Linked DNA regions of Homo sapiens. The protein of the gene in region 1 purifies or fractionates together with the protein of each later gene. This does not show direct contact. Each region holds a gene or a part of one and is shown on either strand. Other genes may lie near its edges. The genes, in order: THBS4 and ITGA5.

The links.
Region 2: the proteins of THBS4 (region 1) and ITGA5 purify together in Homo sapiens (co-immunoprecipitation; one study listed by IntAct). This does not show direct contact.

What each region holds. Positions count from the first base shown.
Region 1 is NC_000005.10:80,080,201-80,083,958, forward strand, and holds the end of THBS4 (thrombospondin-4 isoform a precursor), read left to right. Parts: exon of another isoform or gene 1-24; intron 25-2,159; exon of another isoform or gene 2,160-2,205; coding exon 2,206-2,345; intron 2,346-2,879; coding exon 2,880-2,941; 3' UTR 2,942-3,087; downstream 3,088-3,758.
Region 2 is NC_000012.12:54,409,051-54,412,868, forward strand, and holds part of ITGA5 (integrin alpha-5 precursor), read right to left. Parts: intron 2,915-3,818; coding exon 2,784-2,914; intron 686-2,783; exon of another isoform or gene 548-685; coding exon 435-547; intron 303-434; coding exon 182-302; intron 1-181.

The DNA.
Region 1 (3,758 bases):
TTTTGTGACCGCAGGATGGGGAACCTAGAAAAGAGGTGGGAGAGAAGATATTCAGGGTCAGACCACCCGGACAGGACAGTAGGACCAAGATGGGGATAGAAGGAGCAGAGCTGAGGGGACGACCCAGCGTTGTGGGGTTGGTGCATTTGGATGGCTGTGCCCTTCTGCCATGCTCTGCAGAGAAGCCTGAGGGTGGACATGCCAATCGGTATGAGGTAAGAGGTGTGGCAGGGTCTCTTCTCCACACCCTCCCCTGTGGCACCTCTGGGCCCTGTGTAATCACTTACTAGTGCACATTTCACCCTGACTGCAGCACTATGTCCCTTACAGTCTGTCTTCCCTGCTGGATCACAAACTGCATGAGAGCAGCGCTTGTATCTTTTTTTTTTTTTTTTTTTTTTTTTGGAGACGGAATCCCACTCTGTTGCCAGGCAGGAGTACTGTGGCGTGATCTCAGCTCACTGCAACCTCCGCCTTCCTGGTTCAAGTGATTCTTCTGCCTCAGCCTCCCGAGTAGCTGGGATTACAGGCACGCGCCATCACGCCAGGCTAATTTTTGTATTTTTAGTAGAGATGGGGTTTCACCATGCTGGCCAGGCTGGTCTTGATCTCCTGACCTCGTGATCCACCCGCCTCGGCCTCCCAAAGTGCTGGGATTACAGGCATGGGCCACTGTGCCTAGCCATAGCTTATTATTTTATCTTGATCTCCCCAGTGCCTAGCACAAAGCCTGACATCTACTACACGTGGCATGAACTGATCATCATGTAGGCCAAAGTAGTCTGACTTCTTTCTTTATAGGACTTTTTTGTTGTTGTTTTTTAAGTATTCTCGGGAGTTAGGAGGCTTAGGGCTGTGTCTTTGAAATGTAGATAGTGTTCTTCTTCATTTGAACTTGCAGATCAACACCCATCCTAGCCTATGTAGGATATTTAGGAAGGAGTACTGAGTGCATTCTCCTCATCAGGGCAGGAAAGCAGCCTTGTGGAAAAAAGAAAATCATGAGGGCAAATTCATGTTTTGTTTCTCTTTGTGACATTATGTCAAATGTACTCTTTTTGTCTCACAGTGAGATGATCATGTTCTCAGCCCTATTAAGCCCAATGCCCCTTTTTTATTATAAATATTTTGAAATGCCCCCTTTTCCGTCCCAAAATGGAATCATAGAAATTACAACCTACCTACACGTATAATCTAGAAAATCAATGTGAGCCCTAACAATATCATAGAGAAATAAGAATAATTTATAACAAAATAATTTAAATATTTGAGCACAGCCACACCAGAAGACAAAATGAAACAGACACTTGCACCCATGCCTAGAATCACTACGAAGGTGACATTCTAACAGACTGTTGTGTCAGTGACTTAAATGTTTGTTACACTGGTTGATGACAGCAATGTAAATTTCTCAAATGGTACACATTTTAGAATGTTAATTTTCAAACAAATTTTCTCAATTTACCCTGGAAAATATAGTTTATATTAAAATTTGTGCAAAATATACTTGCTGTTTACAAGTGAAAGTGAGTCAGGTTCTAGGCCCTGATAGTTGCTCTTTACCTACCCTGGTGTCTGAGGAACACTCCAGAAGTGTATGGAATGCAGGACAGGTTTTGATTGTTCTCGCCAGGGCATTGCTCGCCATCCAGCATCCCTGGCTGCCATCACTCAGTGCCACTGTGACAACCCAAAGTGTCCCCACAGATTCCTCCAACTCTACTTAGGGAGTGCTGTCTCCTGTGGAGAATCATTGCTCTGAGATTCCACCAAAAGATATAAATCAGACCAAAGGAAAAGCCAAAGTTTTTAAGCATGGTATCTAGACAAGGCAACTCACATGACAATAAGACACAAAACTTTCTCACTCAAGATAGCAGGTTTGGTTTGGTTTGATTTTTAACTCAAGTTTGATAGTGTGACCAACATCATGTTAGGCCTTGTGAGAGACAGAAGTTGGGAAGAAACACCCCCCACCCCCCTCCACACACACACGGACACACACGGTCCCTGCCCTCAAGGACTTCCAGTCTAGTAAGTAAGTGGCAACAGCTACAGTACAATCCAGGTCAGCGAAAAATGGAGCCTAAAACAGAGCAAAGAAAGACGCAGGTACGTATAAGAAGTGGGGCCCCTGGGCCTCACAGTGGGCACTTTACCCCGGGTTGGATTTCATGGAGGCCCCTCCGGCCGTGTTGTCCGCAGGGTACGATTTTATGAAGGCTCTGAGTTGGTGGCTGACTCTGGCGTCACCATAGACACCACAATGCGTGGAGGCCGACTTGGCGTTTTCTGCTTCTCTCAAGAAAACATCATCTGGTCCAACCTCAAGTATCGCTGCAATGGTAATGTGCATTCTCGTTACTGTTCAACATTGTTACTAGAATTAGTCAAACACTGCCACCTTATTTTTATACCGCACTTCCCCCCCAAAAGCCCAACGCTCATACCACATAGTCATTAAAACCTGATAGTCCCTGTGTACCAGAAGTAAAAAGCAGATCACATTTATCCTATTTTATCCATGTGGAAATTAAGACCCATAGAATTTAACTGCATGGTTTAGGGTTTGGGGTTCAGTGAGAAATCCAGTCAGATTTAATTTACAGGAAGCCTTTATTTTCATGTGGTTAAAACATAATCACAGATGCAAAATCCATTCTGCCTGCTGATTTTCTGCACGGCCGGGAAGGAGCACTCCTGGGCTTTAAGCCAACGGTTTGCAAAGCAGCCTGCAGGAGAAAATGGCGGCGAGGGCCTGCGGGGCGTCCTGGGCGGGCTAACAGCGCCCCCTACAGGACGCCTGAGCCGCGGGCGGGGGTCCGGGGTCCGGGGTGGAAGGAGCCTCGCTAACCTCCCTGTGCCCATTCCTATTGCAGACACCATCCCTGAGGACTTCCAAGAGTTTCAAACCCAGAATTTCGACCGCTTCGATAATTAAACCAAGGAAGCAATCTGTAACTGCTTTTCGGAACACTAAAACCATATATATTTTAACTTCAATTTTCTTTAGCTTTTACCAACCCAAATATATCAAAACGTTTTATGTGAATGTGGCAATAAAGGAGAAGAGATCATTTTTAAAAACCGTGTTGCTCAGACATTGCTCTCACGTGGCTCAGGCTTTGAGGTGCCCGTTCTCGGAGGGATCCCTGTTAACTTGCAGGGTGGTAGTTTCTTCTCAGACCCGGTGGCCGATAAGATGAGCCTATGCGTGAATCACAAGGCCCAGGCCAGAGGTCTCAGCTGGGGTCCCCCCAGTTTGCTCCATACAAAACGCCTAACCGTTCCATGCTCACCTTGGCAGCCTCCTTATTTCGGGTAAGGGGTCTCAGAAACACGTGTTTGGGGTGGCACCTTCCCTAGGGAGGCGTTTTTCTGACCTAGTCCTGGGACAGATTTGCCCAATTCTTTCTGATGCTGTCATCCCATCCCACACCTTCCACAGACTTCTATTCTGGCCCCTTCAACGTAATTCTTAAGCTTATTTATATATTTGGCTCCCCCTAGTGGACTGTAAGCATATTGACAATAAAGGATCATGTCATTACAATCAATATCCCCACAGTACCTGGAATGTAGTAAATAGCCAGTAAATGTTTACTGAATTAATAAACGAAGAATGAATGAATGAATGCCTCTTAAAGGACAGTAGAGTGTACATGATCATAAAAGTCCTCCTCAACTCAAAAAGTCACAACATATCCTCTATTTGTGGTACCAGTAGCTGGATGTACAGCACAGAAACTTGCCTAATT
Region 2 (3,818 bases), on another chromosome or scaffold:
AGAAAGGGCCTTCCTGGACCAGACAGTAAGCATAAAGGCTAACGAACTGGGTTAGCCTTTATCTTAAGCAACCTAGAACCTCATGGGGGCACATGGTAGGTGCGAGTCAACCCTAAGTATGTGAGACACTTCAAGTATATGAGAAGGCAGACATGGGGCACAGGCCCCCTCTTGCCCCTACCTGAGCGGCAGGGTGCATACTCCAGAATTCGGGTGAAGTTATCTGTGGAGAGGTAGCAGGTGCCCACGGGGTCGCTCAGTGGCTCCTTCTCTGTGCGCCAGCTGTACAGTGGAGCGCATGCCTGGGAGGGCCCAGGAGGAGGGGCCTTCAGATTCAGTCCAATAAGGCCCTTCCTCCCTCCCTCCAGGCCCGGCCTTACCCAACCACTGCCCATCCCCTGGCCACCACACCACTGAGCTTGCTGGCCCCTCACCAAGATGGAGGAGCCATGGGCTCGAACTGTTGCCCCGAACCACTGCAAGGACTTGTACTCCACAGGCTCCTCTCCCTCTGAGCTGGACAGTGAGGACTCCAGGAGCCGAGAGCCTTGTGGAAGTGAGAAGGGGGAGTCTTACTGAGCCATGGACATTTGAGCTCTAGGGCAGCCCCTACCCTCAGCCTGGGGATACCCAACAAACGCTTCCAAGCCCTGAGACTCCATGACTCGCTGGGAGTGTGGAATTGGTAAGGAGCTTAATTCTGCTTTGTGTAGTCTGTTTGTGTAGCCTGACTTATCTCTCCACTACACACATACACATACACACACACACATACATACACACGCACGCACACGCACACAGAACCTGGGCTTTCTTTTTTTTTTGAGATGGAGTCTCACTCTGTCACCCAGGCTGGAGTGCAGTAGCATGATCTCGGCTCAGTGCAACCTCCGCCTCCCTGGTTCAAGGGATTCTCCTGCCTCAGCCTCCTCAGTAGCTGGGATTACAGGTGCGCGTCACCACACCTGGCTAATTTTTGTATTTTTAGTAGAGACGGGGTTTCATCATGTTGGTCAGGCTGATCTCGAACTCCTGACCTCATGACCTGCCCGCCTCAGCCTCCCAAAGTGCTGGGATTACAAGCGTGAGCCACTGCGCCCGCGTAGAACCTGGGCTTTCTAGAGTTGCCTCCCCAAGGTTCCTGCTTTCTCACCCAACTGAGACAAGGATGCCTGCTGTGGAGCAGGGGCAGGAGGATGGTGGGGAACAGTGGCTATTTCCCAAGAGAGTAACCCTTTGGCTGCACTTCTTTGTCTATACTTGGACTGTGTCTCTAACACCATCTTGTTCCACCTCCTTTTTTTTTTTTTTTTGAGATAGGGTCTCACTCTGTTGCCCAGGCTGGAGTGCAGTGGCGTGATTATGGCTCACTGCAACCTTGACCTCCTGGGTGCAAGTGATCCTCCCACATCAGCCCCCCAAGTGGGTGGAAACTATACCCAACTAATTTTTGTGTTTTTTGTACAGATGGGGTTTTGCCATGTTGACCAGGTTTATTTTAATTTTTTTTTTTTTTTAAACAGGGTCTTGCTCTGTCACTCAGGCTACAGGGCAGTGGGGCAAGTAGCACTCATTGCAGCCTTGGCTGCAGTGACGGAGAATCACTCAAGTGATTCTCCCACCTCAACCTCCCGAGTAGCTGGGACTACAAGTGCTCACCACTATGCCTGGCTAATTTTTTTTTTTTTTTTCTTGAGACAGAGTCTTTCTCTGTAGCCCACGCTGGAGTGCAGTGACATGATTTCAGCTCACTGCAATCTCTGCCTCCTGAGTTCAAGCAATTCTTGTGCCTCAGCTTCCCAAGTAGCTGGGATTACAGGCAAGTGCCACCATGCCCGGCTAATTTTTGTATTTTCAGTAGAGACGGGGTTTTGCCATGATGGCCAGTCTGGTCTCAAACTCCTGGCCTCAGGTGATCCACCTGCCTTGGCCTCCCAAAGTGCTGGGATTACAAGCATGAGCCACCACACCCAGCTCTGTCTAATGTTTTTGGTAGAGACAGGGTCTCACTATGTTGGCCAGGATGGTCTTGAACTCCTGGGACCAAGTGATCCTCCTGCCTCGGCCTCCCAAAGTGCTGGGATTACAGGCACATGCCACCGTGCCCAGCCTGTCCAGTTTTTATTTCTGGAGACAGATGGCCCTAGTTCATATCCTCTCTCCAATGTTTGCTAGCTGTATAACCTTGGATAAGCTACTTACCCTCTGTCTCCTCACTTAGAAAATGGGGATAATAATACCTTATACAGTTGTTGAAAAGATTAAGTGAACTAATATATGTAAAGTGTTCACAACTGGGCCTGGCACAGAGCAACTGATAGCTGTTAGTCTCCATCTTCCTCCCATCCATCTGTGTCTACTCAGACCTTGAGCTCCTTGAGGGCAGTGGCTTAGTCATCTTTCAGTCCCTGCAGCACCAGCACAGTGCCTGTCATGCACTGTCACTTAGTCAGTACTTAGTTAAAGGAACTGAATAGTTTGTGCAACATTCCCTGTCTTTGTCTGTGTTACGGCCCTGGCCTCCCAGAATTGTGGGTGATTCAGGGGAAATGAGAGCCACATGTTTCTGAATCATGCCCGTCCTCCTTGGGCTGGGCTGGATGGGAGAGTGGAGTGAGTGCCATGGGGATCCACTGTAAGCAGTTGGAGCACCAGAGCTGGTGCTGAGAGGTCACGTGGCCGGGGTTCCAGCAGGCTCCACCCCTCGCCCCAGGCCCCACCCAGGCCTTGCCCCCAGGCTGCAGTCCCACCCCCCAGTCCCTCCCTGAATTTCACTGGCCTACCTTTGCTGTCAAATTCAATGGGGGTGCACTGTGTGGGGCTGGCACCCCAAGGACAGAGGTAGACAGCACCACCCTGCAGCACTCCTGGCTGGCTGGTATTAGCCTTGGGTGCTCCCACCAGCACACTGACCCTGTGGGGGGGAAAAGCGAGGCAGTTGAGGATGGCTCCTAGCTTTTCATTGGTGTCTGGAGGCAGGAAGGACCCAGGCCTCTAGGCTGGGGCTGGCTGGGGGTGGAGTAGATGCCCCCTGCGTTGTATTTATATCTCAGAAGATGCCACAGATGCCAGAGGCACAGGCTGGAGTCAGGCGGTCCCCATGTGCCGCTGTCACTAACACAACCCTCCCCTCCTCCCGCCATTCTCTGTCCTCTCCTACCTTATCCTGTTCATAAAGAGAGGAGGAACCACAGTCAATTTCTAGAAGGGGAAGAGGGGCCAGAGCCTGTACCCCTGGCTTCTCCCTCTCCTCTACGTACCTGCTGAGATTAGATGTATAGCTTCTGGAGCGCCAAGGTCCTGTGGAGCCTCAGGGTCTCTCATCTAGCCTATATACTCTCCTCCCAAGCCAAATCCCCTCCCTGGGCCAAGACCCAGGCATCCGGCTGCCCAGCCACCCAGCCTTGGGGCGTGTAGGAGGAAAATGTGAGTCTTGGAAATCAGGCAGCAGGAGTGGAGAGAGGAGCTGGAGGACAGTGAAAACAGATTGTTCCACTGGGCCTGGGCCTGCCCTCACCCCGGCCCTGGTGTGGGCCTCCCCTTCCTGGCTGGGTCTGTGTTTCAGCCCTTGAACCCCTTTCCCATAGACCACCCCCAGCTGACTGAATTCAGAGTCTGCTCTACCGGGGTCCCAGTTCTGGACACAGTGCTTCTGTTCCCCCTGATATGAGGGGAAGTTTGCCCTGTGTAATGGGGTGGTCATAGCTAAGGGCCTGGGCAGTCCTCCTGCCGTCAGCTCTGCCTCATTCATCCCTAGGTCTCTTGCCTCCAAGACCTCCACACCGCTCTTGGCTCTCTTGGTTTCCCCTAAGGGTCTC